3 linked regions of the Homo sapiens genome follow. The protein of the gene in region 3 interacts with the protein of the main gene of each other region in a biochemical or structural test. Each region holds a gene or a part of one and is shown on either strand. Other genes may lie near its edges.

Evidence for each region.
Region 1: the proteins of RAB3B (region 3) and RPH3A form a complex in vitro, tested with the Homo sapiens proteins (one study listed by BioGRID).
Region 2: the proteins of RAB3B (region 3) and PIGR form a complex in vitro, tested with the Homo sapiens proteins (one study listed by BioGRID).

The regions. Positions count from the first base shown.
Region 1 is NC_000012.12:112,889,830-112,899,458, reverse strand, and holds the end of RPH3A (rabphilin-3A), read right to left. Parts: intron 9,436-9,629; coding exon 9,379-9,435; intron 8,611-9,378; coding exon 8,456-8,610; intron 7,181-8,455; exon of another isoform or gene 7,074-7,180; intron 4,882-7,073; coding exon 4,800-4,881; intron 3,683-4,799; coding exon 3,586-3,682; intron 2,810-3,585; coding exon 2,679-2,809; 3' UTR 578-2,678; downstream 1-577. UniProt on the Homo sapiens protein: Plays an essential role in docking and fusion steps of regulated exocytosis.
Region 2 is NC_000001.11:206,927,706-206,937,700, forward strand, and holds the end of PIGR (polymeric immunoglobulin receptor precursor), read right to left. Parts: coding exon 9,390-9,995; intron 8,114-9,389; coding exon 7,781-8,113; intron 7,042-7,780; coding exon 6,715-7,041; intron 5,462-6,714; coding exon 5,281-5,461; intron 4,873-5,280; coding exon 4,751-4,872; intron 4,098-4,750; coding exon 3,966-4,097; intron 3,851-3,965; coding exon 3,792-3,850; intron 2,709-3,791; coding exon 2,613-2,708; 3' UTR 817-2,612; downstream 1-816.
Region 3 is NC_000001.11:51,985,840-51,995,674, forward strand, and holds the start of RAB3B (ras-related protein Rab-3B), read right to left. Parts: upstream 4,862-9,835; 5' UTR 4,713-4,861; intron 1-4,712. UniProt on the Homo sapiens protein: The small GTPases Rab are key regulators of intracellular membrane trafficking, from the formation of transport vesicles to their fusion with membranes.

The sequences.
Region 1 (9,629 bases), on a different chromosome or scaffold from region 3:
CTCCAATGAGAGAATCATTGTAGGTTGGAAGGTGCTACAATGCAAGGGAGGCATTTGATGGTCCATGCTCATCGATCAGTGTGTGAAGAACACTGGATTCTGGGAGTCCAACGATCGAACTCCTTTCCTGGTATTGCCTTTGTTTAACACTGGACATGGCATTTTCTTCTCTGGACCTTGGTTTCTTCATCTGTCTAAAAAGTGAGTTGATTGAACTAGGTTGTGGCTCAATTGTATGTTCTCTTTTAGCTTTGGCAATTTCTGATTCTGCAACCACCTGGGACGTTTCCCAGGTCTTGTAGCAGCAGGAGGAGGATGAGGATGTTGCCCTCCTGTTTGGTAGGCACCAGCAAAAAGTATTCTTCTAGAAGGGTTTGGAGTCAGCCAAGTTACCTTAGGCCCACCTGCCCAAGATAAAATCCACCATAAAGCAAACTCCTCGTGGGCAGAGAACACATCTGTCGCCAGTGCCTGGAACATAGTAGATGCTCATTAAGTACTGACTATCAGAATAGCATATGTCCTGGTGGGGAGGAGGACTTCGCAGAAACCAGAAAGGAAAACTGCAGACCACTCGTTTTCTTGGATGCTCCTACTTTATTTTTGGCTACATCATCACAAAGAAAGATGCTGGGTGGTTGTGCATGCACCGGAGGACGTGTGTGTATTCTAGGCAGGGAGGTGGTTACATTTGTCGGGGACAGCGGGCACCCAGACTAGGGGCACTGTGAGCTTGCTGCATGCTGATTCCAGCGCCTACACCAGCATCAGGCTTGGGCGACACAGCCAGCATGCTGTCTCCTAAGGGGAAACTGTGGTGAGGGAGGTGGGCTGAGAGTAGGTGCCACCAGGGACTAATGGGGAAAGATAAGGTCAAAAGGAAAGATGGCAGCCAGGAAGCTGTTGGCCACCTTGGGGAAGGTGAAGAGCTCGATGTTTAGAAAATGGTTATTCAAGGCAAGAAATGAGTCCTCCCATGAATTGTGCAGGGAGCTGAGGGTGGAGGGCGTTGAAAAGTTAAGAGATGTGATTTGGGGAAAGTGAGAGTTTGAGTATCTGTCTGATGCTTCTGTAGAGAATGTCAGGGGTTTGGGATGACTGGGAGTGATTTTCATGAGGGAAGACTTCATCAAAATTGGGAAAATCGAACCTTTCTCACAGGGCATTGAAGATTGCCTGACTTCAACCTCAAATTTGTAATGTTTGCCCACATTGCCTTTTCCTCCTTTATAAAATAATTTTTTTTATAGGAAGAAAGTGAAAGATTGATGATGAGCCCAAAGCCTTTGGCATCAGGCCTGTCTCTCTCTACTGTTCCATAGCCATGATATTATTTGATTCTCCCAGGAAGCTTAGTAACGAGAGTGCAGGAGACAGAGAGACAGACAAAGAGAGACAGAGAGACTGGAGGGGGTTCTGAGTGAGAGATGGGATGCAAAAGAGTCAATGAAACAGAGTCAAGGGCATTGGGGAGGAGGGTAGCTTGTTCATTTACCTAAGAGCGGAGAAAGGAGAAAGGCTGGAGGCTTTGGCTGAGGCTTCCTCAGACCCATGGCCCTGGTCTTCTAAATGCCTCCGTGCCCACCCGGGGAGCCCACGGATGAGAGAGTCCTCTATGGGGCATCTACACAGCTTGAGGGATGCTGCCATGCACTCAGGGCAGTGCCAGCCATTGGCCCAAGCCCTGGGAATGTCTGGTTCTGCCAACGGGAGGAGTGGGTCAGTTAAGAAGCGTGGGCCCAAGTGGAATCTCAGGTTTGGGCCAGTTTCTCAGTTTCCTGGTCAGGCTGGTGAGAGCAAGGGGGTGAGGCTAGGTTAACATACACTTTTTTTGCTGTTGTTTTTGCGGTGTTACTGCTTTAGAGAGAGAGAAAGGCAAAGGGAAGAAAGGCAGGGAGAGAAAGGAGAGGGGAGAGGCTGAGAAAGAGAGAATCTACTATCATGGAAGGGAAAGAAGAGGGAGGAGGAGAAAAGGTGACAGAGGAAGGGTTTTTTGTTGTTGTCGTTTGTTTTTGTTTTGCTAGGAAGCACACAGGTGACATTCGGAAAGAGGAGAGCGTCCAAGCCCCTGGTGAATTCTGTGCATTTGCATCCTGGTGCACTTGGAGCAGGGAGGGTGTGTTACTGAACACAGCAGTCTGTTTTCCTGGCAATCAGGGTGTACATCTCAGGGGGCAGTGGGAGCCCGGAGGCTCTATTTGTGCCCCAATGCTTCTCTCACAGCATTGTCCGGGTCTGCTGACAACTGGGGATATACAGAGACACAACACAGGGAATGAAAGGGTGTGTGTGTGTGTGTGTGTGTGTGTGTGTACATGTGTGTGTTCAAGGCTAGGAGGGTCTAAAAACAGTCCTAAATGATGAAGAACCTTTGTAATTTACCCAAACTGAGAGGTTATTAAATGATCAACCTCTTTGTAAACGTCTCCCCAACCCCATCCCCATTGCTCCATCCCAGGGATGAGAGAGGGGCTGTATTCAGAGCCCACATCCCAGCATCAGGGAGGAGGGAGTCTTTGGCAGCAGTGCCCAACGTGACGGGGGCTCAAAGGCAGGCTCAGGGAGATCAGCAGGGTATGGGGGGAGGTAGGCATAGAGAAGAGAGATCAGGGTGCGGTGGGCAGCTAGAGCAGGCTGGGGGGGACCCGGGACATGGAGATGGGGACCTGGGCACTAGCCTAATCACTTGACACGTGGTTCTCATTCTGTAGCTGGTGCCAGCGCTCTATCTTCTTGTCTTTATTTTTCAGACACTCGTACCAGTGTTTTAAGCGCTCTCCCTTGGCAGAGATCCCCAGCTGGCAGCCTCCTGGAGGATAAATGGGAAGATAGGAGCAGGTGGTCAGAATAGAGGTCGTTCTAGACCCAAATGTGTAGTTGGGGAAAAAACTGCACCAAGCAGTGACCCCCAGCAACCTGGGATCCATACTCTATAGAGAGTTGTTATAACGTTGCTGCTGTTGTTGTTATTATTATTACGGTCCTTCTCTGCCTCAAGAACCTGCAATGGCTCCCTACTGTTCCACTGAGTCATAATTTCACTGTCTATTTTTAAAGGCTTTCTACAAATCACCATTCTACTCACTGAAACTTATCTCCCACTACTTCTGGGAACTCATTGTCTATTTCCAAAAAGGTTCATCATCCTGCTCAATCCTGTCTTTACCCCTTAGCTCAGGCTCTGTCCCTTGCCTGGAGTCCCCACCCCCCTGCTTCATCTTTAATTGATTTTCTTCCTCATGATTCAAACAGGAACTAAAAAATTAAAAATTTTATCCTGGACATGCAAATAAATTAAGAATTCTTTTGCACCCTGCTTTCTGCAGAGAACGCAAATCTCTCCTGTGATTTAATTACCCCACTGGAGGTGATTTGTTCAACAAATAATCAAGTTTTGTAAGGCTTTTCATGTAAAGACATCCCCAAATTGGACCAAGGTCAAGATCATGGGTCTCAATTTAGCATTTGAACAATGAGGTTGCCAAAAGAATAGCAATGACCTCAACTCTCTGTAGCCCTGGATAAGGCTCTCCTGTTCTGGGGAGGACAGAAGAGGGCGTTTTCTCTGGAGTTAGGAACACTCACCGATGTAATCATTGGACTTGCCGATGTCATAGTCCCAGACTGAAATGTCCAGTGACTTCTTTGCCAGGTCACTGTGTTTGATGTCATAGAAAAACTCCTGAATACAACAGAGGAAGACATGTGGGTAAGAGCCCTCTGAACCCACAGCATTGGGAGGTAAGAGGCCGAGTCCTAGGGGTTATGGGCCAAGGAGAGGTCCTTGAGCTGGCATTCTGGGAGCAAGGAGGTCTTCCCGTGCCGATCCTCTGCCCCAGGTCCCGTGATCCCCTTCCAACAAACACTCTGTGTAACAAAGCACTGTCATCCTCTTTTCAGTGAATTCTCTGCTTGAAATTGGGAAGGCTGGTGAGGTTTTTCTAATAGAGCTCAAGTTTCCTTGTAGGTAAATGGCCATGAACATAGTCCTTCCCCTCTGGTAGTTTATGAAGGGGCATCCCCTTTTTTATTGCTTAGGAATAAAAGTAGTTGAAGTGGCCGGGCCCGGTGGCTCACACCTGTAATTCCAGCACTTTGGGAGGCTGAGATGGTGGCTCATTTGAGCTCAGGAGTTCGAGACCAGCCTGACCAACATGGTGAAACCCCATCTCTACTAAAAATACAAAAATTAGCCAGGCATGGTGGTGGGCACCTGTAATTGCAGCTATTCGGGAAGCTGAGGCAGGAGAATTGCTTGAACCAGGGAGGTGGAGGTTGCAGTGAGCCAAGATCACGCCACTGCACTCCAGCCTAGGCCACAGAGTGAGACTCTGTCTCAAAAATAAATAAATAAATAAATACAGTTGAAGTGGACTGAGTACATATGTTCCCAGACAATCTGATTTTTAAAAAATAGCTTCTCTGCCTAATTACAAAATTCATTTTATGTTCATTGCTAAAACAAAGAAGAACCCCCACCCCCAATTCCCGGTAATCCAACTACCCAAGAATAACCATGTCAACATTCCCCCACATGTGTTCACAGTGATGTATAAATTTTTTGTTAACTAAGTAATGCTGAACATACAGTATTGTCACTTCCTTTTTCATTTACAACTTTGGGCAAAAACCAACTTAGCATGTTCTCAAATATTTTTCAAATATTTTTCTACATCATCATTTCAAATGGCTGCATTTAATGGCTATGTGGCCACATATTTAATGGCTATGTGGCTATTTGTGCCTCTCTAACACACAGCAAATATCCCAGAGCATGAAAAAGAATAGGGCAGCCTTACCTCATTGAATTCGGGATTCAAGGTTTTCTTTTTAATTTGAGTCTTGTGTTTGGCCTTCTTTCCCATGTCCGGTTTCAGCCAGCTGGGAGGCGACACAACATGCTATTATGGATGACGTTTAATGAATAAGAACAGCCTCTTGACCCCAAAGGCCCCTTCTTTATCAGGGTGAATTGATGAATAAATCAGAAAGGGATCAACATTGATAATGACCAATATGCATTAGAGCATCTGCTTGGTACCAGGCACTTGACTGAGCAACTTAGGCATATTTAATCCCCACATGACCCTAGGCAGTAGAACCACAACCACTCAGTTTACAGAAACAGAAACTGAGATCCAGAGAGGCAGAAGTGTGCCCTAGCTCACACAGCTGGGATTGAATCCAGATGTTGCATCTAGAGTCTGTGTTCTTAGCATGCTCACTTTCTCCCCATAAGTCAAATTGATGGCCATGGCTGGTGGTGCCTGGCATTTTACCATCTATCCCACCTTAGGCTGCCCCCAATCCCTAGAGAGAGGCTGGGTGTATGCACAGAAAGGGGAAGATGCAAATCTGATTATTGTCACTCCACTTCTCAAAACTGTGTACTGGGTTCCTTTTAAACTCAGGGGAGAGTTCAAAATCCTTCATGTGGCCTTAAGACCGTGTGTGTTGGGTTTCTGCTCCATCCCAACCTAACCTTATGCCATCCTCCTCACCCCACTCCTTACTTCTCCTTTCCACCCAAGGGCCTTTGAGCAAACTGTTTCTTCTGCCTACAGGGCTCTTTTCCAGTGAGGCCCAGTGTCTGGCACATAGTAGGTACTCAATCAATATTTTCTGGGTGAGGCTGCGTATGGTGGCTCGTGCCTGTAATCTCTGCACTTTAGGAGGCCAAAGCGGGAGGATCACTTGAGCCCAGGAGTTCCAGACCGGCCTGGGCAACATAGCGAGAGCCTGTCTCTATAAAAAATAACAAAAATTATCTGGGCACAGTGATGTATGCCTTCAGTCCCAGGTACTCAGGAAGCTGAGGTGGAAGGATCTCTTGAGCCCCAGAGTTCGAGGCTGCAGTGAGCTATGATCACACCACTGCACTACAGCCTGGGCAATAGAGCGAGACCCTGTCTCTTAAAAAAGAGAGAGAGAACAAAACACAAACCAAACAAAACAAAATATTTCCTGGGTGAGTAAACACAATGGGCTAAACACTCCTAAGGGCTGGGACATTTGGATTCTGATTCAGGTTGTCACCAGCGGAGCAACTTTAAACATGAGCGTAACTTTACCGTGCCTCTGTTTCTTGACCTGTAAAGAGGGCGAACATTTCATTCTCATCTACAGAAGTGGTTTTGAGGATAATTTTTAAGAAGAGACAAAAATGAGGAATTAGAAGTTACCAAAGAGCTAAGCAAAAATAATGGGAAGTTCTGGCTTTTAAAAAATCTTTATTTGATCAGAAACTGCTTAGTGGTCTCCCATTTTTTCTCCCATAACTGCACCCAGCAGGTCAGCTGCTTCAGTAGTGACCACGGCAATTCTACTTCTTCTGGAAGGATTGGGTAGGTGGGGGAGGGGGTGGTAGAGAGAATTATTTAAGAAAACCAATCTGCACATGGCTGACCTCTAATGGAGTGCTGGACAGCACCCCTTGAGCTCATTTCCTCTCTTGGGTCATACGAGGAAATAAAATCAAATTACTCTTAGAAACCAAACTTGTCCCTGACCTGTGTGTTCTTTGTTAACTAAATCTTCATTCAAAGGAAATGTGAAAGACAGCCCACATGGATCTGTTCTTTGGCCATGGACTAAAGGGAAGTATTGCTTTCTGTTATCAGAGGCAGTGGAGGTGGGGGGAGTGTCTCCCAACTGGAGGGGATATTAGTAAATACTCTCTGCCATGAGTAAGGACAGTGATGGTGGTTATTTATAACCATAATGGCAGGTATTTATTAGCATTTACTGTGTACCAGACCCCTTGAAAATGTACCTCTCAGCCTGCATTCTCCAGTTGCAGGGGGTAAAACTGATGAACAAGCTACTGGGCTCTGTATTCATGATGTTCTTGCTGAAGCCACGCTTCCCACAAGTGTTCTTAGCCAATAACTGACGCTAGCAGGGACACTAGGCAGCCCCATTTCTGGGAAATGCAGGACTCCTCTGATGGGTGACTGTGCTCAAGGATTCTCCATCACCTTGGATGAAATAGTGCAGCTTCCTTGGAGCTGCACTGTAGCCTAAGATTGTTTCTACCCAAACTTCCTTCCTTCTCTGCTCCACAGGGGTCATACCTGTAGCAAGGTCTGTGGTCTCTATGGGTCCCCTCTGGATTCCTCCTTATCTCCTCTACAGGCACACCTGTATCTTCTCTTGGTGTTTCCTTCTTGGAGGACCTGAACTAATATACAGTATTACAGTATTACTCTGTCCATTTTGCAGATGAGCACACTGAGGCCTAGAGATGTTAAGCTATGAGCCCCAGGTCACATAGCTAGAGCATACTGGAGACTCCATGCTCCATGGAGATCCACATCCACAGAAACATACATGTTGCTGCCCCAAGGCCAGCAGAATTCTACTGAGGTGCTAAACATTTCTGTACCAGGCTCGATTCTGTTTGCTTTCTTTGTGCTATCTCATTTGAGCCTTAAGCCCACCTTGGAGATAAGTGGAACTCTTGTCTCCATTTTACCAATGAAGAAACTGAATGAGAAGCTAAATAACTTGCTTAGAGTCCACAGCCAGCAGCTGGCAGAGATGAGAATAGGGCCTGATGTCTGACACAGCGGTGGCTATGAGATTGCACCTGGCAGACCTCCAGCTACAGGAAGCGTAACTGACCAAGGCCCTGGATGCAGTGCTTGGAAGTCCATGACATATTTGTGCCAAGGCCATGCTCCCAGCCAATGACTGGGCCTGGCAGGGATGCTAAGGTCGGCCCACTCCTATGAGATACAGGACATGTCTGATGGCCAGTTTTGGCTTGAGGACTCCCTGGTGGCCTTACTGAACTTGTATCTGGAATGCTTCCCTCCAACTTCTCTATCTAGTCCCCTCACTCAGGTCAGACTTGCATTGTAGTCTAACATCTCTCCCTTTCTCCCCTGACTCCCTGCAGACTTCCTGGAATGGGCATTTCCCCTGATAAACCCCTTGTCTGCTTAATCCTATTTTGGCATCTTCTTCTCAGAGGATCTGGACTAACACAGATAACAGAGTCCCTTTTATTCTCCATGATGAGATTGCTGGAACAGACCCCAGACTGAAGGCATGTTTTTTTTCTGAGCATTTCCAGAATGAATCTGGAAAATGCCAGATGGCCTCTTTGGTGGTGGAGGTCTGAGCGGTCCGAGGGGTGTGCGGCCAACTCCTGGGAGTACAAATGGGGCTACTATAACTAATTAGCTTAGTTGCAGAGCCATCAGCAGGCCCTCAAGAGGACAGAGCCACAGAGCTTTGCCTGTGGGCAAGTGACACACCAGTTTGACTGCCTGAGACTCCAGACCCACATTCTTGCCAGTTGTAGGCATTTGTTTCACTGTGACCTTGGGCAGGTTCCTTGCCCTCTCTGGGTCTCAGTGTACAACGATCTTGGTGAAACTGTCTGGTTCTCCTTTTCCAAGGCTCCAGGACTCCTTCAGGGCCCACCTGTAGCCCCAAGGCATTGACTTACAGCTTGACGAATGGGTCTGAGTAGCCATTAGCGTCCATGGCAGCCAGGTGCACGCAGCGTATGATGCCCACAATGAGGCCTCCCTGCTGTGTGCTGTACATGAGGGAGACCAGGATCTTGCCACGCTCCTCGATGTCACCAACACGCTCCACCTGCTGCATTGGGGGAAAAGGCAGTGTGGGCCTTGGAGGGGAGGGGGCCAGGAAATGTGAATGGCGAGCATTAGGGAAGAACCTATGAAGGGCAGGCGAAGCTTGGCCAGCTCTAGGGAGCCAGTACCAGGGACAGCAGATGGCTTAGCCTCCAAAGAGGAGCCAAAGGTGAAAGTTGAGGACCAGTCTCAGGCACATGGGGACCAATGGCTTCCCTTTGACTTAGACATAAACAGACTCTGACTGTGAGCACAGACTAAACTTGCTCCGGGTCACTGATTGGCTTTGGCTCTAACCCAGGACTGAGCCTTGACCCTGGCCCCAGACAGATTCTTGCCTCTGATCTCAGACTCCCTTAACACAACCAGTATTCTTAAAGGGCAGTCCTTGGGGTCATATGAGGGACCCAGGCAGACAGCATGAAGGCTTAGTTCAGTTTCTGCCATGCACACAGCTCAAAGAATGCATCTACTCCAAGAAAGGAGTGTGCCATTGCCCTAGTCAGTAGAATTGTCAACAAAGCTTCTGACAACAAGGCCAAAAACCTGGTGGGCATCCTGGGTATGAGAGAAAGGGGCTTCCCCCTCCTCAGAGGCTTAGGTGTGGAGAGGACATCACTTGTGGGCAAAGGGTTGTTCTCAAGGCAAATCAACAGGGGGGTGGTTGGAAGAGAATGGATGAGGAAGGGGCCAGGGAGGGAGAGAAGAGGAAGATGCTAGCCTAGCCCAGTACAGACCCTGACTGTGGCTTCAATTCCTGCTCAGTGCTCACCTCTTCCTCATAAAGGGCCATGCCTCGGGCTGACCCGGTGGTCCCAGCACGTTTCATCTTAAAAGAAGAAAACAAATAAAAGATAACATTGTCTATGGAGCTCATCTTCCTGCGCAAGAAGGACCAGAAACCCCTCATACTTCCATTACCATCCAGAGCCATGAAAGTGGGTTCTTAAGCTACTGTGGCTCTCCTGCATTCTCCCTTTTAGCTAAAATTTATAAAACTTAGCCATATGGCAAGCTATGTGA
Region 2 (9,995 bases), about 150 Mb from region 3:
AGAAAAAAACATTTCTGATGCCCCCTCTTCTGGCTGGATAGAAGCCCAAGACTCTGACCCAGGTCAGGGCCTGGGAACTGAGACTGGAGTACTGCAGTTAGTGGGGCTGGAGGGAACACCAAAGGAGGCCTGAAGTCTGAGTCCCAGGAAAAGGTAGGCTTGGGAAGCTCATAGCATCCACAGCATTATGTTTAAGGCCTGGGTGGAAGCAAAGGTTCACATCAGGCAGGATGGCAGACTGGGGAGAACTCTCTTGCAGAGAGAACTCTCCACACACAGAAGCCCTGTGGAAGAGTCTAGGGGTGAGATGGGGGGCTAGCTGCCAACAGACAGCTTGGGCAGCCCTTAGAGGATATGACATGGTTCAGCACCAGAACCTAGGAATGATCTTAACAGACAAGGGGGTCCCAGGGTGCCTAAAATTGGGACCAAAGCAAAAGGCAGCCAGATGCAGTGGCTCACATCTGTGATCCCAGCACTCTGGGAGGCAGAGGTGGGAGGATCAGTTGAGCCCAGGAATTCAACACCTGCATAGGCAACATGGCGAAATTCTGTCTCTACAAAAAAATACAAAAAGTTAGCCAGTGTGGTGGTGGACGCCTGTAGTCCAAGCTACTCTGGAGGCTGAGGTGGAAGGATCACTTGAAACCAGGAGGTTGAGGCTGCAGTGAGCCATGATTGCACCACTGCACTCCAGCCTGGGCAACAGAGTGCCCTGTCTTAAAAAAAAAAAAGGAAAAGAAAAAGAAAAGAAAAGCTCTGAAGAGGCTGTCTGGGAGACAGAAGGTATTGGGTGCAAATACAGTCTGAGCCTCGTTGGTGGCAATCACAGTCTTTAATCATTAATTGTCATATTTCTGATTTGTTAGCAAGTGCCAGCTTGTAGGCTGGTTGAAGTACAGAACTCAGAGGAAAAAAGAAATTAAATTTTAGCTTTCTGGAGAGCAGCCCCTCTCTGGCACCATCAAACACTTCTTTGTTTCCCTTCAACTTGGAACTCTTCAAACATCAGGGGTTGTGAGGGTTTGGCCATTCTTTTATCTTGGGTCCATGTGAGTGACAGAAATGGTGCGGCCTGGGAAAGATCTCCCTCCTTTACATTTTCTCTTCTCCCTCCTCCTCCTTATTCTAAAACTGTGCCTCCAACAGAGGGGCAGGGGCTCTTGTAGAGAGATCCCTGGCCCAGGACAGGAGATGCCAAATCTAATTTATCTCACTGAGGGCCTTTGAGAAAAACGCTTCAGGGCCAGGCTCAGTGGCTCATGCCTATATAATCCCAGTACTTTGAGAAGCTGAGGCGGCAGATCACTTGAGGCCAGGAGTTCGAGACCAGTCTCGTCAACATGGCGAAACCCTGTCTCTACAAAAAAAAAAAAAAAAAAAAAAAATTAGCCAGACATGGTGGCCCACATCTGTAGTCCCAGCTACTTGAGAGGCTGAGGCATGAGAATAGCTTGAACCTGGAAGGCAGAGGTTTCAGTGAGCCGAGATTGTGTCACTGCATTCCAGTCTGGGTGACACAGTGAGACTTTGTCTCAAAAAAAAGAAAAGAAAAAAAGAGGCCGGACGCGGTGGCTCACGCCTGTAATCCCAGCACTTTGGGAGGCAGAGGCAGGCGGATCACGAGGTCAGGAGATCGAGACCATCCTGGCTAACACGGTGAAACCCTGTCTCTACTAAAAATACAAAAAATTAGCCAGGCGTGCTGGCAGGCGCCTGTAGTCCCAGCTACTTGGGAGGGTGAGGCAGGAGAATGGTGTCAACCTGGGAGGCGGAGGTTGCAGTGAGCCGAGATTGCGCCACTGCACTCCAGCCTGGGCGACAGTGAGAGACTCCGTCTCAAAAAAAAAAAAGAAAAAGAAAAACGCTTCACTCTTCCAAACCTCAATTTTCTTATGTGTGAAATGGTAAGAATGTGGGTTTATAATTACCTGTGTGTATGCTCATCATACATGACCCCTAAGGCCTTAGGACTCGAGACATTTTATGACCTCTCCCAATAGGGGCAGAGGTGAGCACCCCTGGTGAAAAGTTAAGACTCAGTGAGTATAAATACGCCAAGAAGAGCTGTGGCTTCTTTCACTGGTGTCCTCAGAAAGGCTGTGAGCAGTGTTGGTGGCATACCTGTCACAGCATCTAGCAAAGCACCTGAATTCTAGTATGAATTCAAATACATCTTTTGATGGAAGGAAAGAAGAAGAGGGGAAGGACGGGAGGGAGGGATGGAGTGGAGGGAAAAATTCTGTTGACATCCCATGATAAGGGTGCAGAGGGGCGCTGCACGTCTCTCCTTTCTGCAATCAGCTCTCCCACCCTGGTCCCTCTTCCTTCAAGGGACCCATGAGGACCTCTATTCTTCTCCGTACCTGAGGTTCTCTCAACAGAAAGAAGTTGCAAGTGGGACCTCCTCATGCCACCCTCATCCCCAATAGGAACAATTAGGCCAGGCTTTGATGTCACTGAGGAGGGGACCAGCACGCCTCTGAGGACAGTAGGAAAAACCTAGGCAGGTGTTAGAGCAGGGAGTGGGGTCCCCAGGAGCTGAGGGCCCCAGGATCGACATGATTCTGAAGGTGATTGTCATGGGTGCAGGGAGCAGGCGGCGACACCGTCTAGGCTTCCTGGGGGCCGTCCTGGGCCTCGGCGGCCACGGTGCTGGACTGGAGCAGGAAGTCTTTGTAGGCCATCTCGGCTTCCTCCTTGGATGACTAAGGGGCAAGAGGAGAGGCATCAGTGTTGGGGGCACTGGCTCAGTGGGTGGAGTCAGGGGAGGGGAGGTGCTTAATGTCCTGAATTCGTGATCTTGGTCCAAGCAACACAAGCCTTTGGGGCCCACTGTTCTCATCCCAGCCCCCATGCTCACCAAGAAGGACGCATTTTGAGAAATGGAAAGTTGCAGCCTCTAAAAATATCTTCTTCTGTCTCACTACCTCCTTCTGACACACGGAGTGGAACCGCCTCTGTTGCCCGGGCCTGTCCCCGGAAGCTGCCCACACAGTCCACGGGCAAGGTGGCCTAGGCTGGGGTCAACCACGGTGGTGTATGTTTTTCTTTCTCCACCAGCCCAGACAGGTAGCTTTTTGGCACCACAAAGTTAAAGGGGAAGGCTGTCCCAGGAATAACTCGTTCTAACTTTGCTAAATGCCAGAGATGTTTCAAGAAAAAGTAGATATGATAAAAACAACAACAACAACAACAAAAACTCTCACCTCGGGATTAAAGGCATGAGATGTTATTTTTCTTGGTCCCCTGAGTCCTAGGGCAGATTGAGGGGATGGTATATGGCACCCAAGGCAGGAGTTGCCTCTGGTGGGGCTTCAAGAGAAGTGAGCAGGGGCTTCTAGCCTCAAACTGCCCACCGCAAGCAAATGTCTCCTAGGCCCAGGCAAAAAGCTGGTCCTGAGCAAACCCTCAAGGGAGGATGTGTGGCCTGAGGTCCTTGGGTCCCCCAACCCAGGAAGAGCATCCATTTAATCACCAGCATTTGGCATTGTAGCTTCCCATCTTTTATGCACCTGCTTTCCTCATCTCCTGGCCTGCCTCTCTCCTGCAGTTTTACAGCCTAATCATATAGCTCACCTCCTTCCTGGGCCTTATCCACATCAGCATCCCACAACCAGTAAGATATAGTTCTTCCTCAAAAAGTCCTGAGGACTCCTGAGGACTATTTATATCATCCTCCCTATTCTGGGATCGGCCCCCATGTTGAGGTAGTTCTTTCTGAAGTCTAACTGCATCCCCTCATGCTGCATTTCTTTGTCATGTAGTGGGGCTTCCTTCTTCCTCCTCACCCTTTTTGCCTTCTTGGGTTCTTTGGTCTCTGTGGTGCTCTCAGTGGTGGCAACAAACTCTGTGTGAAGAAAGAGGGTAGGTTAGCCCTTACTAGCCTCCTTTTCCCAACCCAGATGTGAGACCAATTCTTACTCTCCCCAGGGGCTGAGCATTCCCTTGAGTGAGGGTCATACCTTCTTTTCCTCCGAGGGATGTCTCCTGAGTGATCGAAGAGGCTCCCATGTTGTCATTGGCTCCAAATTCCCTGGAGTTCTCGAAGTCTGACATGCTAATGTCTGTCCTGTAGCTTCTGATTGAAACTCGGTCTGTCCGGGAGGAAGAGGAGTTGGTGTAAGGACAGGGGCTGGGACCTAGAAGGCCAGGCTGGGCTGCTTCTCTCTGGGCGGATCCACTGTAGCCCTGCAGGACAGCTGAGGTGGTGCAGCTCTGACTATGACCCAGGGGGATGGAAATGATCCGAGTCTCCTCCCCAGTCCCTTTTCCTGGGTAATCAGGACTTGGTAATCCCTGATCTTTGTCACTCTGGGACCTTTCAATGCACAGCATCTCCTTTGGTCCTCACATCAGCCCCGTGAGGTCCTGATTATCATCCTTGACTTGAGCCATGAGGAAACTGAGGCATGGCATAAGGATGGCTCAATGTCACACAGCTCATTAGTTATCCAATTAGTCCAAGCCCAGGGTCTCCTGAAACCCAATCTCCTCTTCCTGGCAGCCCTGTCTCTGAACCTAGATCCTGGGTAATTGGAGATGATTTTCCAGTGTTAGTATTTGGACAGCAGCTCTGAATTTCAGTTTCGAGTATGTGTGGGTTTATCTTTCCCCATCCTGCTTTCTCGGGATCCTTTGTTTTAGCTCATGAAAAAGAAGAGACACAGCAGCTTCCTCTATGGGTGGATGATTCAGGACTGAGGGCTCGGGTTGGAGGTGGGAGGCAGGGAGTATCCCAGGGACTCACCGACGTTCTTCCTGTGCCGGGCTCTGGCCACCCCCACAGCCACGGCTCCCACTGCCAGCACCAGGCCCAGGGGCACCAGGGTGGAGACCAGCGCTCTGGAGCTTCCACCTTGTTCCTCAGAGCTGGAAGAAGGCTTAAGTTAGTTCATCCCTGGAAGGGAGATCTGGGGGCCCGACGATGTGCTGGCAAGGTTGGCTTAGTCCTTTTTCCTCCCAGGTTTATCCACCCCACCCTGCTGATGCAGCTCCCTAGCTCTGTTCTTCTAAGAAGCCTTCCCAGACTGGCAAAGGCACGCACTGGGCCTTGTTGCATCCTAGGCCTGGAAGATTGAACTGAATTGTAAACACCTCCCCAGCCATGGGAGAAGGGCAGAGGGTACCATAGGACCCTCCCACATATAAGCAGAGGTAGTAAGGGCTGCCCCAGTGCTCAAGAGACAGATGGGCTTTCCTCCTTGGACCTGGTGGCCCAGCCTCAGGTGCTCGGCTCTGGGGTGTTCTCCGAGTGGGGAGCCTTGAATCCTTCCTTACCTGCCGGAATCCACAGATGCTCTGCTCCCATCGGCTTGATCTCTTGTATCTGCCACCGCCTTTTCCTCTGCAAAAAGCCTGGGATCCTGAATGGCTTTGTTCTCAATCTCCCGAAAACCAGAGTCTAGCACCTTCTCATCAGGAGCAGCGTCTGCCTTCGCTAGGCTGACATCGCGGGACCCTGCAGCAGGGAAGAGTGGGCCTGGGTTGTGATTTTTCTCTATGCTCTTACTCCTCGAGGTGAAGGAGTCTGGGGGAGACTTCATGAGGAATCACAGGGTCAGGGTTCGATCTCAAGGCTGTTGGGGTAGGACCCAGGATGACATTAGAAACAGCTGTGATGGCCTTCTTCAGCTGTCACAGATGATCTCTGCCCCATTACTACCAAAAGTATAGTGGGGACCTTCAAGGCTTCGTGTCATAGACCAGCTGTGCATAAAGGCTGACCCATCACTTATGCCCGGGAGATTTTCAAGGCTCTGAGACGCTGCCCCAGGCTTCCTGACTGCCCAGCTGGGTATGATAGTGCTGCCCCCTGGAGGTAGCCTGGCGATGGGCCCCTCAGTGAGTCCCATCCGCAGGGTCCAGACCCAATAGGATTTCTTGAGGGACTACAAATACCCTTATTAGGGCTAAAACATTTCATGTGAAATTTTAAAAGGGGACTTGAAATGCAAATTTACTAGATGTTTCCTAATTTTCCTGATCAGACCTTGTAAATGAAGGTATCTGGCCCTCTTTCGAGGGCGAGCTTTGGCAGGGGGAAGGGGGATGAACATATTGCATATGACAGTGATGTATGCATATTATTCTTCTATACAGAGAAGAATATTTCCAGATATAGAAGAGACTTCAATCTGGGTTGAAGTGGCAACTATGGGACTTGTCTTTTTTTTTTTTTTGAAATGGAATCTAGCTCTGTTGCCTAGGCTAGAGTGTGGTGGCACGATCTCAGTTCACTGCAACCCCTGCCTCTTGGGTTCAAGCAATTCTCATGCCTCAGCCACCCAAATAGCTGGGATTACACCACCATGCCCAGCTAATTTTTGTATTTTTAGTAGAGACGAGTTTTCTCCATGTCAGCCAGGCTGGTGTTGAACTCCTGGCCTCAAGTGATCTGCCTACCTCGGCCTCCCAAAGTGCTGGGATTACAGGTGTGAGCCACCACATTCAGCTGGGAGTTGTCTTAATGCCGAGGTTAAATAGCAAACCCACTATTTTTACTTAGTTGGTATGTTTATTTGAGATGTCCCTTTTGAAGGGCTCAACGAGGCTATATAGGACCTAAATGTCCCCTCCCTTCCCACTCTCCACTTTCAGCCTCTTACAGCCAAACATAGGGGCCAGCACTGATTGAGAAGCTCTCAGGCAGGGGCCTTCAGGAAGTCCTGCCTCTGGGTCTGAGGGGTGCAGGCCCTGTCCTTGGAGACTCACCCGCTGCCTTCCTCTCTTCAACTGCCACATAGACGGCTGCAGTCTCTCCATAGAAGTGGCCCTGCTTCACTCCACACCAGTACCAGCCCTCATCAGCCCTGGTCACCAGGTTCAGGGTCAGGGAGACAAGCCGGCTGTTCTCGTCACAGTTCACGAAGGCCTTGCTGGGGCCTTCGTCTTGGCTGGGCAGGGCCTGGCAGCCCGTGTTATTCCACTTGCACCAGTATTTCTCGTACGAGGAGAATTTGCATGGAAAGTGACAGGGGACCTTGAGAGTCTCTCCCAGCACAGCCGTGACATTCCCTGGTACCTTGAGGTTTGGTTCTCCTGGAGGAGGGAGGGAGGTAGAAATAAACACAGAAGTTGGTACTTGGAGATGCTGCAGGGAAGTGACTCTGGTGGGAATCTTTGTCCACATGTCATATACATATATATATATATTTTTGTTTTTGTTTTTGAGACAAGGTCTCTCTCTGTCACCCAGGCTGGAGGGTAGTGGTGCGATCATAGCTCACTGCAGCCTCCATCTCCTGGGCTCAAGCAATCTTCCTGTCTTGGCCTCCCAAGGTGCTGAGATTACAGGCATGCACCACCATGTTCAGTCTACATATCCTCTTTGGATAGCATTAGAAATAAGTATGTTATTCTGACTACAGAAGAAATGTAATTGTGTGCCTAGGTAATAATTATTATTGATGAGCACCATGATCAATCCAGAGTCTACCATAGACCATAGATCTTCACACATGGACTTCAGTTTGCTTTCCTCACTCTTCCTTCTCTTCTAGACTCAATACAAAGAGGTATCTGCAATCCTTGACTTCAGCTGATGCCTGCACACTGCGAAAGAAGCCCATGTTCTTGGTAGTAGGAGGTACCATGTATGGTAATTCAGAGTGTAAGGTGCGTGTTATAGGCATGAAAATGTGACCTCTGGATAGGTGGGCTCCCTCCTGAGGTCTGGCCCATCAGGGTGGAGGCGGGTGAAAAAGGAGGAAGAGTGGTTGGGGATGCTGCTGCTGGCTGGAGAGGTTTTAGAGCTTTCTCCCTCCCTGTCAACTCCTACCTTCGATAATCTTGATCTCCACGGTGGTCCTCCAGAGAGTATCGCCGTTGGTCAGACACCAGTAGAAGCCGGCGTCCCGGCTGGTGAGCTGGTTGAGGATGACAGTGAAGGTGCCGTTGCCTGGCTCCTCCAGCAGGGAGAGGCGGCCCTCGTACTGGGCCTTAACCCACCCCTCGCTGTCCACCAGCAGGGGGCAGCGGCCATTCTGGGCCCCTTCCCAGAGACACCAGTACTTGATGCTTTTGCTTTCCTTACGGTTGTAGGGGCAGAGCACGGCCACAGAGCCTCCTGCCACCCCCTTCACCACAGTGGGGCTGCGGGGAATCGTGGACTCTGGAAGCACAGACAGAGATGGGATGGGAGGATGGCCACGCAGGAAGAGCCTTGCGTGGCCTGAGAAGCCTTCTTCCCGGGGTCTCAGCCAGGATGGGGAGTGAAGTTTACACGCATCACCTTACCCTCTTCAGAAAATGAAAAGGAGCTTTCCTAATGTCACAGAGCCTGCAGCTGGAGCCATCAGGGCCAGACTCCAAGGGCTTGGAGTCTCCCCATCAGCCTGCACATGTTGTTCTTTTCCCCCATCTTATTCTGAGCAGAGAATGGAAGGAGTTGAAGGAGAGGATATCAGCTCTTCTTTGGCTTCTTACAAAGTCTCCCTCTGTGTAGGTTTTTGTCTATTTAGTACACTAACAAGTGTATTCCACAAAAGTGGCCCAATGGATTATGCCCAAATCAAGAAAATATATTTAGGATGGTATGATGTAAACTATAAAGTATGTAGCAAAGGTGAGCTTAATTGTTGGGGCCCCAAGGGGCATCTCAAAGACGATAGCCATTCTCCAGGCAGCTAAAGCTGAGATCCAGAGAGAAGCAGGTGACCAAAGATGCAGGGGATTCTGGTGAAAACCCAGAGCTGGATGTGGACATGGCATGCAGAGAATATAAGCCCCTTTAAAAAAAAAAAGTCACAAGCACAGATACTTGGAACTGCAAGTACTGGTTTGCTGCTTCTCACGAGGGCAACTCTATGCAGGGTGCTCTGGGATGAGAAGGAGCTGGGATTTAATTCTTTCACCATGCTGATGGCTCACTGGAGTAGGGCTGAGTGGGCCAGATGGTGCTGAAATTCACAAATAACCCTACGAAATGTGACAGTGAAACATTTAGAGGCTGGGGCACTCCTGGGAACGCATTGAGACCAAGATAAGCCAATCCTTTTTCCATCTGAATGTGAGGGATGAGGCACCCATCTTGTTCAGGGGCCAGGGGAGGGGACAGAGGACCCCTGCAGAGCCTGCCACAGCCCTGAAACACAGTCTATAAGTCCTGCCTCAATCAAGAGCTTTACTCACCTCTTGCTTGTTAAGCAGGGACAGCCATCAAAATGACTTTGATAACAGAAGAGTAATTAGGAGCTGCCATCAGGCAGAGGTTGCTTTTTCTTGCTGTCCTGTGCAGCAGCCCACGCAGCCTCCAGTTCGGGGCTGGTCATTGAGTGGATGCTGTTGGCTGATTGATGACTATTGATGAATACACTCAGAGGGAGCTGAGCTTGGCTCTCACCTGCGAGACTGCCCCACCTACTCCCCCTCCCTCTCTAGGGTCTTACCCTCATTGACGAAGAGTTGCCAGGCCTGGATAGGCGAGCCTTCCTGCAGCTGACCATCCGAATGGGCTCCACACAGGTAGCGCCCTGCATCCTCCTTCCTCAGGCCTGTGATCACCACACTGAATGAGCCATCCTTGTCCTGGGGGTTGAGCAGGATCCTGCCCTCAAAGGCTGGGGCCCTCTTCCCCAGGGTGTTGACGACCACGTCACAGTTTTCCCCACTGCTCTGTCGGCACAGAAATTTGGCCACGTTTGCCACCTCAGGGCCCAGGGCACAGTGGAAGGTCACTGAGCCCCTCAGGTCTTCATAAACCAGCTCGGGCTCGGGCTTTAGCACTTGGAGGTCAGCATTCTTCTTATTACTATTGGAATCATCCCCAGCCTGGCAGAGATACTGCCCAGCATCGCTGAGCCTGAGTTGGTTGATGACAACGCTGAACAGTAACTGGCCAGTACCCTGAATATCAAGGCGTATTCTTCCTGTATAGTTGGGATTTACATAACCACTGGAGTCGATGACCAGCACAGGGTACAGGCCTATCTGCTTGTACAAGGACTTCCTCTTTTGAGCATTCTCAGTCTTGAAAGGGCAGTTGATGGTCACCG
Region 3 (9,835 bases):
TCTTACAGGTAAAAAAAAAAAAAAAAAATTGAGGCTCTGCAAAGACAAGTGATTTGTCCAAGCTCACACAGCAAGTCAGTTGGAGGGTCATGAATGGAACTTCTGTTACCTAATGGCTTCCAGGTTTGACGGGATTAAGGAAAACGAAAACCACAACAATTTTAGGGTGAATAAAGAAGCATCCTGGCTGGGCATGGTGGCTCATGCCTGTAATCCCAACACTTTGGGATGCCAAAATGGGAAAATCACTTGAGGCCAGGAGTTCAAAACCAGCCTGGGAAACATAGTGAGATTCCATTTCTACGAATTTTTTTTTTTTTTTTTTTTTTGAGGCAGAGTCTCACTCTGTCGCCCAGGCTGGAGGGCAGTGGCGCGATCTCAGCTCACTGCAAGCTCCGCCTCCCGGGTTCACGCCATTCTCCTGCCTCAGCCTCCCGAGTAGCTGGGACTACAGACACCCGCCACCATACCCGGCTAATTTTTTGTATTTTTACTAGAGATGGGGTTTCACCGTGTTAGCCAGGATGGTCTCGGTCTCCTGACCTTGTGATCCGCCTGCCTCGGCCTCCCAAAGTGCTGGGATTACAGGCGTGAGCCACCGCGCCCAGCCAAAAAAAGTTTAAATTAGTCGGATGTGGTGGTGTGCACCTGTAGTCCTCGGTACTTGGGAGGCTGAGGCTGGAAAATCACTTGAGTCCAGAGGTTCGAGGTTAGAGTGAGCTATGATTGCACCACTGTATCCCAACCTGGGTGACAGAGTGAGACCCTATCTCTAAAAATAAAAATTAAAAAAAAGAAGCATACCCAACATCCTGAGTGTCCTGCTACCGTACTGTACTTGCCATACCACACTGTTAACATCTGCTTATGCACACACAGCATGGCTTTCCCAGTAGGTGGTGTGAGAACGGGGAGAGGCAGAGAGCTGAGTTCAGTTGGAAGGCTCATTCAGATGGAAGCCCCCAAGGGGATCTTCTTAGGAGGGGGCGGCCAGGGGCTACTCAGACATTTGGAAGACAGGCAAAAAGCATCCCAGCAGGCAGCTGCCTGAGGCAGATCTAAGCAGACAGGTCATGCACAGTGGTGCATGCAGAATTGCATTTGTAAGATAAGCATCAATCAAATCTTTCCTCTATTTTGTGACAGTCACATAAAATGATAGAGCTATCTCCGTGACAAGCAATACAGATGAAGGCCCAGGGACCATCTGGGAAGTCGTCCCTGTCCCAGGCTGGGGGAAAGAAATGACTCCTCAAAGGGTGGCTGTGAAAAACAACCCTTTCAGTCTGATAGGCGGCAGAAATAAGCACCTAAGGAAGAAGCCAACTTCAGCCAGGAAAGAGCGGGGAGGAGGAGGAGAGAGCCCTAAAATCCAGCGAGAAGAGATCAGCTCAATAAATGGAGTGAAGAAGTGAATGAAGGAACTTACCTTTTGTTGCAAAGAACATGAGACTGAGTCCAAGAGACCTGGCATTTGAAAGATAAGCCCTGGCTCTTTCAGTGATCCTGTAAACTTAGGCAAATCACACCCCTGGCCTCAGTTTCCTTATCTATAAAAGGAGCTCATAAAATGGCTTCCTGGCAAAACTGTTGCAAGAATTAAAACCTGTATATGGGAGGGTGTTTTATTAACCCCTTATTTTGTTTGTTTGTTTGTCTCTGTGCTTCATGGTTTCTTCTAGCAAGTCATCCTGTGTAGTGGAAATAGTTTGGAGCTCCAAATCAAACAAACTAGATTCAGTTTCCAGGTCTATCATTTATTACCTATGAGACCTTGGCAAGAAATGTTACATGATTAAGACAGTTTCCTCATTCATAAAACAAGTGTTGTTGGGAAAATTATAGGTAATGTGGGTTATACATCTAGAATAGTACAGTAATTTCTTGGTATAGGCAAGGGATTGGCTCCAGGACCCCCATATATACCGAAATCCACGCCTACTCAAGAACCACAGTTGGCCCAGTGGAACCCACCTAGACTAAAAGTTGGTCCTCTGAATATACAGACTTCACCTCCCTTCACTACTGTATTTTCTTCTCTTTTTCTTCTTTTTTAAGAGATGGGTGTCACTCTGTTTCCCAGGATGGAGTACAGTGGCCTGATCATAACTCACTGTAGCTTCAGGTTCCTGGGCTCAAGCGATCCTCCTACCTCAGCCTCCCAAATAGCTGGGATTCCAGGTTTGAGCCACTGCGCTTGACCCACCATGGTATTTTTTTTAATCAGTGTTTGGTTGAAAAAAAAAATTCAGGTATAAGTGAACCTACACAGTTCAAACCCATGCTGTTCAAAGGTCAACTGTATATGCAATATAGCAGGGGCTCAATAATGTAATTCCCTGTCTTCCTACTTGGAGCATTTCAGTGAGAATAAGAAGGGAGTTGGGCAAATGTGGACCTCATCCTCCTTTAAGCCATACTCTACTTTTCTAATTCAATCTGTCTTTAGACCATTCCCCACTGCTGACCCATCACCACCTTCTCATTGTTTTCCCAGGTCTCCTAGAGCCACAGAAACAATATCACAATAGCTACCATTTATTGAGCACCTACTAAATGTCTAGCATTCTACAAGATGCTTTCAAAGCATTCCATCTTGCACCAACAGATGCTTGATATTCATTTCCTTCCTCCTCCAGATTGGAAAGAGATAGCCATGGGTGTGTCCACTGACAAAACAGGAACACCTGCAGAATAACATCAGTGGCCTCTCTCTTTGTACATTGTTTTACAGTTTACAAAGTTCTTTTCACCCACATTATCCTATTTGATTCTCACAACAATTCTTGGGAATGGATGAAGAAATTGAGGCAGGAGCACCAATTATTCATTCAATCAACATTCACCAAGCACCTACTATGCACCAGGACCTGTGCTATACTTTAGGGAGATGGAGAGAAACCCTAGGAGCTTCAAGCTTAGAGGGGAAATCTATTTAAATATTTTGTATAGGTTACTGATGCCTCCCTTCATGTCATAATCTTTAAGAAACTGAAGATCTATTTCTTGGACTGGAGATGCTTTTAGATTTTTGCCTTTTCCCATACGGTTTCCTCTGATAGGAACACACTTTCCTCCACTGCTAGCTAAATCCTTCATGACCAGGAAGGCTTCCCCAACCCACCCACCTCCCCCAAAATGCTTCTTCTCTGGCTCCCACAGGGCACCAGGGCTTTCCACTTCTATAGATAGGGCCTTTCACGGCTTCCATTGTCTTCCTCTGTTTATAGGCACAGAACAGGTGGACACCCACCTGTGCGCGCGCACACACACACACACACACACACACACACATCCTCTCCTTTTACTGTCTCCCACCCCTTTCCATCTGGATTCCAGGAAGCCGGGGGAAGAGGGCCCATCTTGTTTTGTGTGTGTGTGTGTGTGTGTGTGTGTGTGTGTGTGTGTGTGTGTGTGTTTTGAGGGCCCATCTTTCTCCCACCTCCTCCACATCTCTCTTAGCTTCCAAAGGCTGCTGCCCTGCCCTCCCCAAAGTTGCTTCCATGCTTGGACTACAGAACAGAGTTGGATGACTTTTTCTGTCCACGATTCTCTTATTTTCTGTGATCCCCGGTGCCCGTGTAACAAGGTCCAGTGCCTGGGTCCCCTCCTTGGACTCCTGAGTGGCCGAGACACCGCTAGTGCGTGGACACCACTCCAGCCCCCATTACCTTTCCACCCTTACACCACGACCCACACCTGGCCTCCTCCCCAGGCTGACCCAGCGCCCCACCACCCTATCTATACACTCCAAGTTCTCCCACGATTCCTCCACTTGCAGCCGCCAGACCCTACTCTATTCCAGAGCCTCCTCTCCACTCCTGACCAGAATGTAGGCCCCTGTGTCCATTTCCAAGGCCACTTCCCTGTGTCTCCACCGGCTCCCTGCCCCCTTCCTCTGCAGCAGGGTAGACCCAACCTGGCCTCTCACCCTTCCATTCTCCCAAGCTTCCCGCCCCCAAGCCCCACCCCTCGTCTTCCATCTACAGTTACCCCCACGCCGGTCCCCAGCCGGGCTCAACCTCCGACCCCAGCTATCCATACCCACATCCCCCATAAATGACCCTCTTTCGACCAGACACTGCCCTGCTGCCTTTCTCCTTCCCAGCTATCCATACCCACATCCCCACCCCCGACCCTCTCCCAACCAGACACTCCCCAGCTGCCCAGCGCCCCTTGCCCTCGGCACCTCAGTCCCCTCCAGCTCCAAACGACCCCCGCCCAGCCAGTCCCCTCCCCTCAGCTCCTCACCTCCATGCCTCCCCCCGCACCCCCGCTCTAGCTCCCCTCAGTCCGCTCCCTTCACCGCCCCCTTCGCTGCCCCTCGGCTGCCCGGTACCACCTTTCCGCACAGCCCCACTCCGCCCTCCTCGCAGCTCCCCCGCCCCCCACGCCCCCGTTTCCCCCAGCGATCCCTCACTGCCCTCCAGTTGCCCCCCATCTCTCCTCCCAGCCCCAGCGCCGTCTTTCTTGCTCCCCTCCCGCCCTTGGAGCTCCCCCGGCTGCCCCCAACGTCTGGGAGACCCCCTCGGCGCCCCCTCCCTAGGTGAGCCCCACCTCTGCCGCCGCGGAGCCCCCTCCCTCGCTCCTCCCCCGGCTTCCTTCCGCTGCCCCGCGCTCCTTCTCGGCGCCCGCTCTCGGTGCCCAGCGCCCCGCGCCGGGGATCGGTCCCTGATCCTCCGCGGGCGGGCTGCCGGGGCCGCGCCCCTTACCGCGGACTCCGAGTGCGGGACGACGGGTTCGCTCCCGGACGGTCGGCGGGACGGCAGGACCTGGCGTCGGGAGGGCGCGGAGGGGGCCGGGGCGGGGCGCTGCGGGATGGTCTGGTCCGGTCAGGTCCTCACAGTGGCGCCTGAGGGCTGAGGCTCCCGCTCCAGCACTGCTCCGCTCCGGCCGCATCCAGGCCCCGCCCAAGGGCGGAGTCTGTGTTCGCCCCGCCCCGGCCCTCAACTCCTAGCAGGTGTAATCCGAGGTGACTCAGGACCTCCAGGTCCCCCATGTCTGGGTGACTCTCGTGATTTATCTTAATTGTCATGCCTCGTTCCATTGACTGAACTTACTAGGGTAATTAGAGAGCTTTGATGATAATGTAGCTGATGATGGGTAGCAGTTTTGCCATTTCCAAACTGCTTTCTGGTCCGGTCCGTTCTATGGCTCCGTCTTCACAAAAGCCCAGAGAGGGAGGCTGACTACAAGCGGAAACCAAGCCAGAAACCTGGACGCTGTCCTCTACCCTATCTGTGTTTCCTTCACACCCCACATCCCACCGCCTTAACATATCCCTGCCCTTCCTCTGTGTCTCCATTGCCCTTGTTCTGACTCCAGCATCATCACTTCTTGCTTGGACTAATGCAACAGCTTCCTAATTCCTGCCTTCACTCTCCAATTCACCCTATAAAACCAGGACGTGGTGTCAGCATGGCCATTTCCACCCTTGTACAAAAATTCTTTCTCCTGTGGTCTCCAGTCATACCACCCTCCACCCCTCCTCATCACTGACACCCAATTGTTCCTTATGCATTAAAGATTGCAGCCCCTGGCCCATGGTCATCCTAACTAGCCCCTGTTCTGCCATACTCCTGGTGACTTCGGTAGCTGTGAGACTTCCTGGTCCCATTCATTCTGAGTCAGATACCAAAATCATTTTGACACAAGCCCGAGCAACCCTTTAAAAAATGTCACCATGTTACCATCAACCTTGTTTAAGAAAACTCTCGGCCAGGCACAGTGGCTGACGCCTGTAATCCCAGCACTTTGGAAGGCCAAAGTGGGCAGATCACTTGAGGTCAGGAGTTCGAGACCAACCTGGCCAACATGGTGAAACCCTGTCTCTACTAAAAATACAAAAATTAGCCGGGCATGGTGGTGCATGCCTGTAGTCCCAGCTACTTGGGAGGCTGAGGCAGAATTGCTTGCACCCAGGAGGCAGAGGTTGCAGTGAGCCGAGATCACTGCACTCCAGCAGTGCACTCCAGCCTGGGCAACAAAGCCAGACTCCATCAAAAACCAAACAAACAAACAAACAAAAACCTCTCAATGGTTTCCCATTACCAGGAGGCTGTCAACAGGAGTAGAAAAATGTTCTTGCCTGGCCTGGCCCTAGGAAGTCCCACTTCCACTAGAGGAGGCAGATAGAGGAGGCAATAAATACCCCACCCTCAAATCCTGATATGGACTTCCAGTCTTCCTGAGGTCACAGGAGCCAGCTGAAGGCTTGCTCTAGAATCATTGTCTTTCCCCACACTTCTCCCCCATCTCAGATCTTAGAGGTCTGAGTCAAATACCAAAACCATTTTCCCCCCAAGTTCCATTATGACCCTGTCTACAGTGTACATCTCCAGCCTAGGAACCACCCAAGCTGACAGCTCCTCTGCTTGTCTGGCCTCTGCCTCAGACGCTTACTCTTCTGAGCTTCTTGCCCAGCCCTTTCACTCACACTGCCCATCACACTGGCAGCTCTTTCCTCTGTGCCTTCTAGAATCCTGTTCTTTTGTCAACAAACTCTGCTATACCCTCTGCTTCTTCAGAGTACTCAGGTGACTTCTTTGCCTGAGCCTCCTCCAGGTACTGCCTCCTTTGCTGCCCTCTGCTAGAAGGCTTCTCATTTTTCCACTCCCCATATACTATAAAACTAGGATGTGGGGATGGCATGGCCATTTCCACCCTTGTGCAAAAATTCTTTCTTCTGTGCTCTCCAGCCATACCCCCCTCAACCCCTCCTCATCACTGACCCCCCAATTGCTCCTTATGCATTACAGATTGCAGCCCCTGGCTCATGGTCATCCTCACTAGCCCCTGTCCTGCCATCCTCCTGGTGACTTCAGTAGCTATGAGATTTCCTGGTCCCTCAGTCCTTGTCCTCCACATCACCTTGGCCACCAGCTCCCATGGTCACTCTTGAGCTCTTAATCACCCACTGCTGGTACCTCTGTAATAGCAAAATCAAACATGCTACGCTGAACTGCTCCCTCACTCTCTTTCTCTCACAAGGCCCTACTTCCCTCATTTCAAAATAGACGAGATGATAATGATTATTCTTTCTTCCTAGGAATAATGAGACAGCATATAGAGCCATCCTTTTAAAGTTGTGAGACAATATGAGAACAGATGGTATTGCTTTTATGTAGCCTCAGTTCTTCTGGTTGCTTTCTCCTTCTCCCTCCTCTGAAAGGCGGTATAGTAAATTAGAAAGGGCACACACAGGCTTGGGGCCAGGCAGACCTGGTCTTCAGTCCTTGCTTGCTGTGTGATCTTATGCCAATTACCTAATTTCTCTCGCACGCACACCCCTTCCTTATTTGTAGAAAGAGCAATAATAAGAGCTGCTTCTCAGAGTTGTTGGGAAGATCAAATGAGAACACAAGCTACTGGAGAGGACTTGATAGAGTGGTAGGCATACAGTAAGCATTCAACAAATAGGAAACACTGTGCTTCGTATAACAGAAAAAAAAAAGTGCTATTTTTAAACCACAACTGCCTTCCAGGAATGACAGATCCCAATGCACAGAAAGTCCTTTTGTCCTGCTTGGGGCCTCAATTGATGAGAGTGAATACGTAACTTTGGGAGAAGAAATTGCTCTCTATGTTTAAAAAGGGAGTAGGGGTAGGTGGGGCATGATGGCCCACGTCTGCAATCCCAGCACTTTGGGACCACCTGAGGCCAGGAGTTCGAGACCAGCCTGGCCAACATGGTAAAACTCTGTCTCCACTAAAAATACAAAAATTAGCCGGGCGTGGTGGTGGGCGCCTGTACTCCCACCTACTCGGGAGGCTGAGGCGGGAGAATCACTTGAACCTGGGAGGCGGAGGTTGCAGTGAGCCGAGATTGTGCTACTGCACTCCAGCATGGGCAACAGAGTGAGACTCCATCTAAACAAAATTAGGGGTAGCAGGAGGCAGAGGTTGCGATGAGCCGAGATTGCGCCGTTGCACTCCAGCCTGGGAAACAAGAGTGAAACTCCATCTCAAAAAAAAAAAAAAAAAAAAGGTGGGGGTGGGAGGGTTGGGGGAAGGCAAATTTGGAATTCACTTGACAAAATGGGAGGGCAAGTTAATAGAGATCGGAGGGGAAAAGGAAAAAGATGAGTAAGAAAATCAATGTAAGGATAGGTGCTACATAGGTAAAGAGTCAGAAGAAACTCTCCCATGGTAGTTGACAAGAGTGTTTCAGCAGTGGGATACCTAAAATGGGATAAGTTGTTTGTTACACTAGGACGTGACCATCCTATGTGACTCTCAAGACTTCAGGAAGGGCTATTACACCCAGGAACGCTTTTTGAGAGAGGGGAATTGTGAGAGTACATGAGTAGGGAGTTGAGCAATGTGCTTTGTTAGGTCTCAGTTGAAAAAGGAGACTGGAAGCAGAGGTAACTGTGAGACCACAAGCCCTTGTGGAACTTGCAAAAACTTGTGTAGGACTTTGCACTTACATGAGTTGGGAAATGTGAATATTGAGGTTCAAGCCCATTGCATTTGGATCTTGAAGAGGCAGAGAGGCAGCCAGACAGCGGCTCACACCTGTAATCCCAGCACTTTGGGAGGCCAAGGTCGGCAGATCACCTGAGGTGAGGAGTTCAAGACCAGCCTGGCCAACATTGTGAAACCCCATCTCTACTAAAAATACAAAAAAATTAGCCAGCATGGTGGCAGGTGACTGTAATCCCAGCTACTTGGGAGGCTGAGGCAGGAGAATCGCTTGAACCCGGGAGGCGGAGGTTGCAGTGAACCAAGATCGCACCACTGCACTCTTGCCTGGGTGACAGAGTCAGACTTGGTCTCAAATAAAAAAAAAAAAAAGCCGGGGGCGGTGGCTCATGCCTGTAATCCCAGCACTTTGGGAGGCCGAGGCGGGCGGATCACGAAGTCAGGAGATCAAGACCATCCTGGCTAACGTGGTGAAACCCTGTCTCTACTAAAAACACAAAAAATTAGCCGGGCGTCGTGGTGGGCGCCTTTAGTCCCAGGTACTCGGGAGGCTGAGGCAGGAGAATGGCGTGAACCCTGGAGGCGGAGCTTGCAGTGAGTTGAGATCGCGCCACTGCACTCCAGCCTCGGCGACAGAGCGAGACTCCATCTCAAAAAAAAAAAAAAAAAAAAAGGAGGCAGAGAGGCCACATCTGACATTTGGGTTGCATCATTTATGCCCTCATAAGCTACCTTCTTATTGACTAAGGTAACCACCTGAGGGAAGAACAACACAAATCAAATTATACTGGACTGTCTTCACTTCCAGATCCAAATGCCCAAGGAAGAATGGGAAGGAAAACAAAATTCTTTTTTTTTTTTTTTTGAGATAGAGTTTTGCTCTTGTTGCCCAGGCTGGAGTGCAATGGCGTGATCTTGGCTCACTGCAACCTACGCCTCCCGGGTTCAAATGATTTGGCTGCCTCAGCCTCCTGAGTTGCTGGGATTACAGGCATGTACCACCACGCCCAGCTAATTTTGTATTTTTAGTAGAGACGGGGTTTCTCCATGTTGGTCAGGCTGGTCTCAAACTCCTGACCTCAGGTGATCTGCCCCGCCTCAGCCTCCCAAAGTGCTGGAATTACAGGCATGAGCCACTGAACCTGGCCCCTGAATGAAGACAAAATTCTACCTTTTGTCTTGGCTCAGATTAGTTAACAATTATATTCATTGAATCTTTAAATTACACTAAGATTATTCACATCTTTTATCTCATTTAATCCTCAATATAATTATGCAAGTTATAGATTATCATCCCTTTTTTATAGACAAGGAAAGAGAATTGAGAAAGTTTAAGTGACTTGCCCAAGGTCATACAACTGGTAAGTGGCAGAGCCAGATAGCAGGTCTGTCTGACTCCAAGGACAGGGCG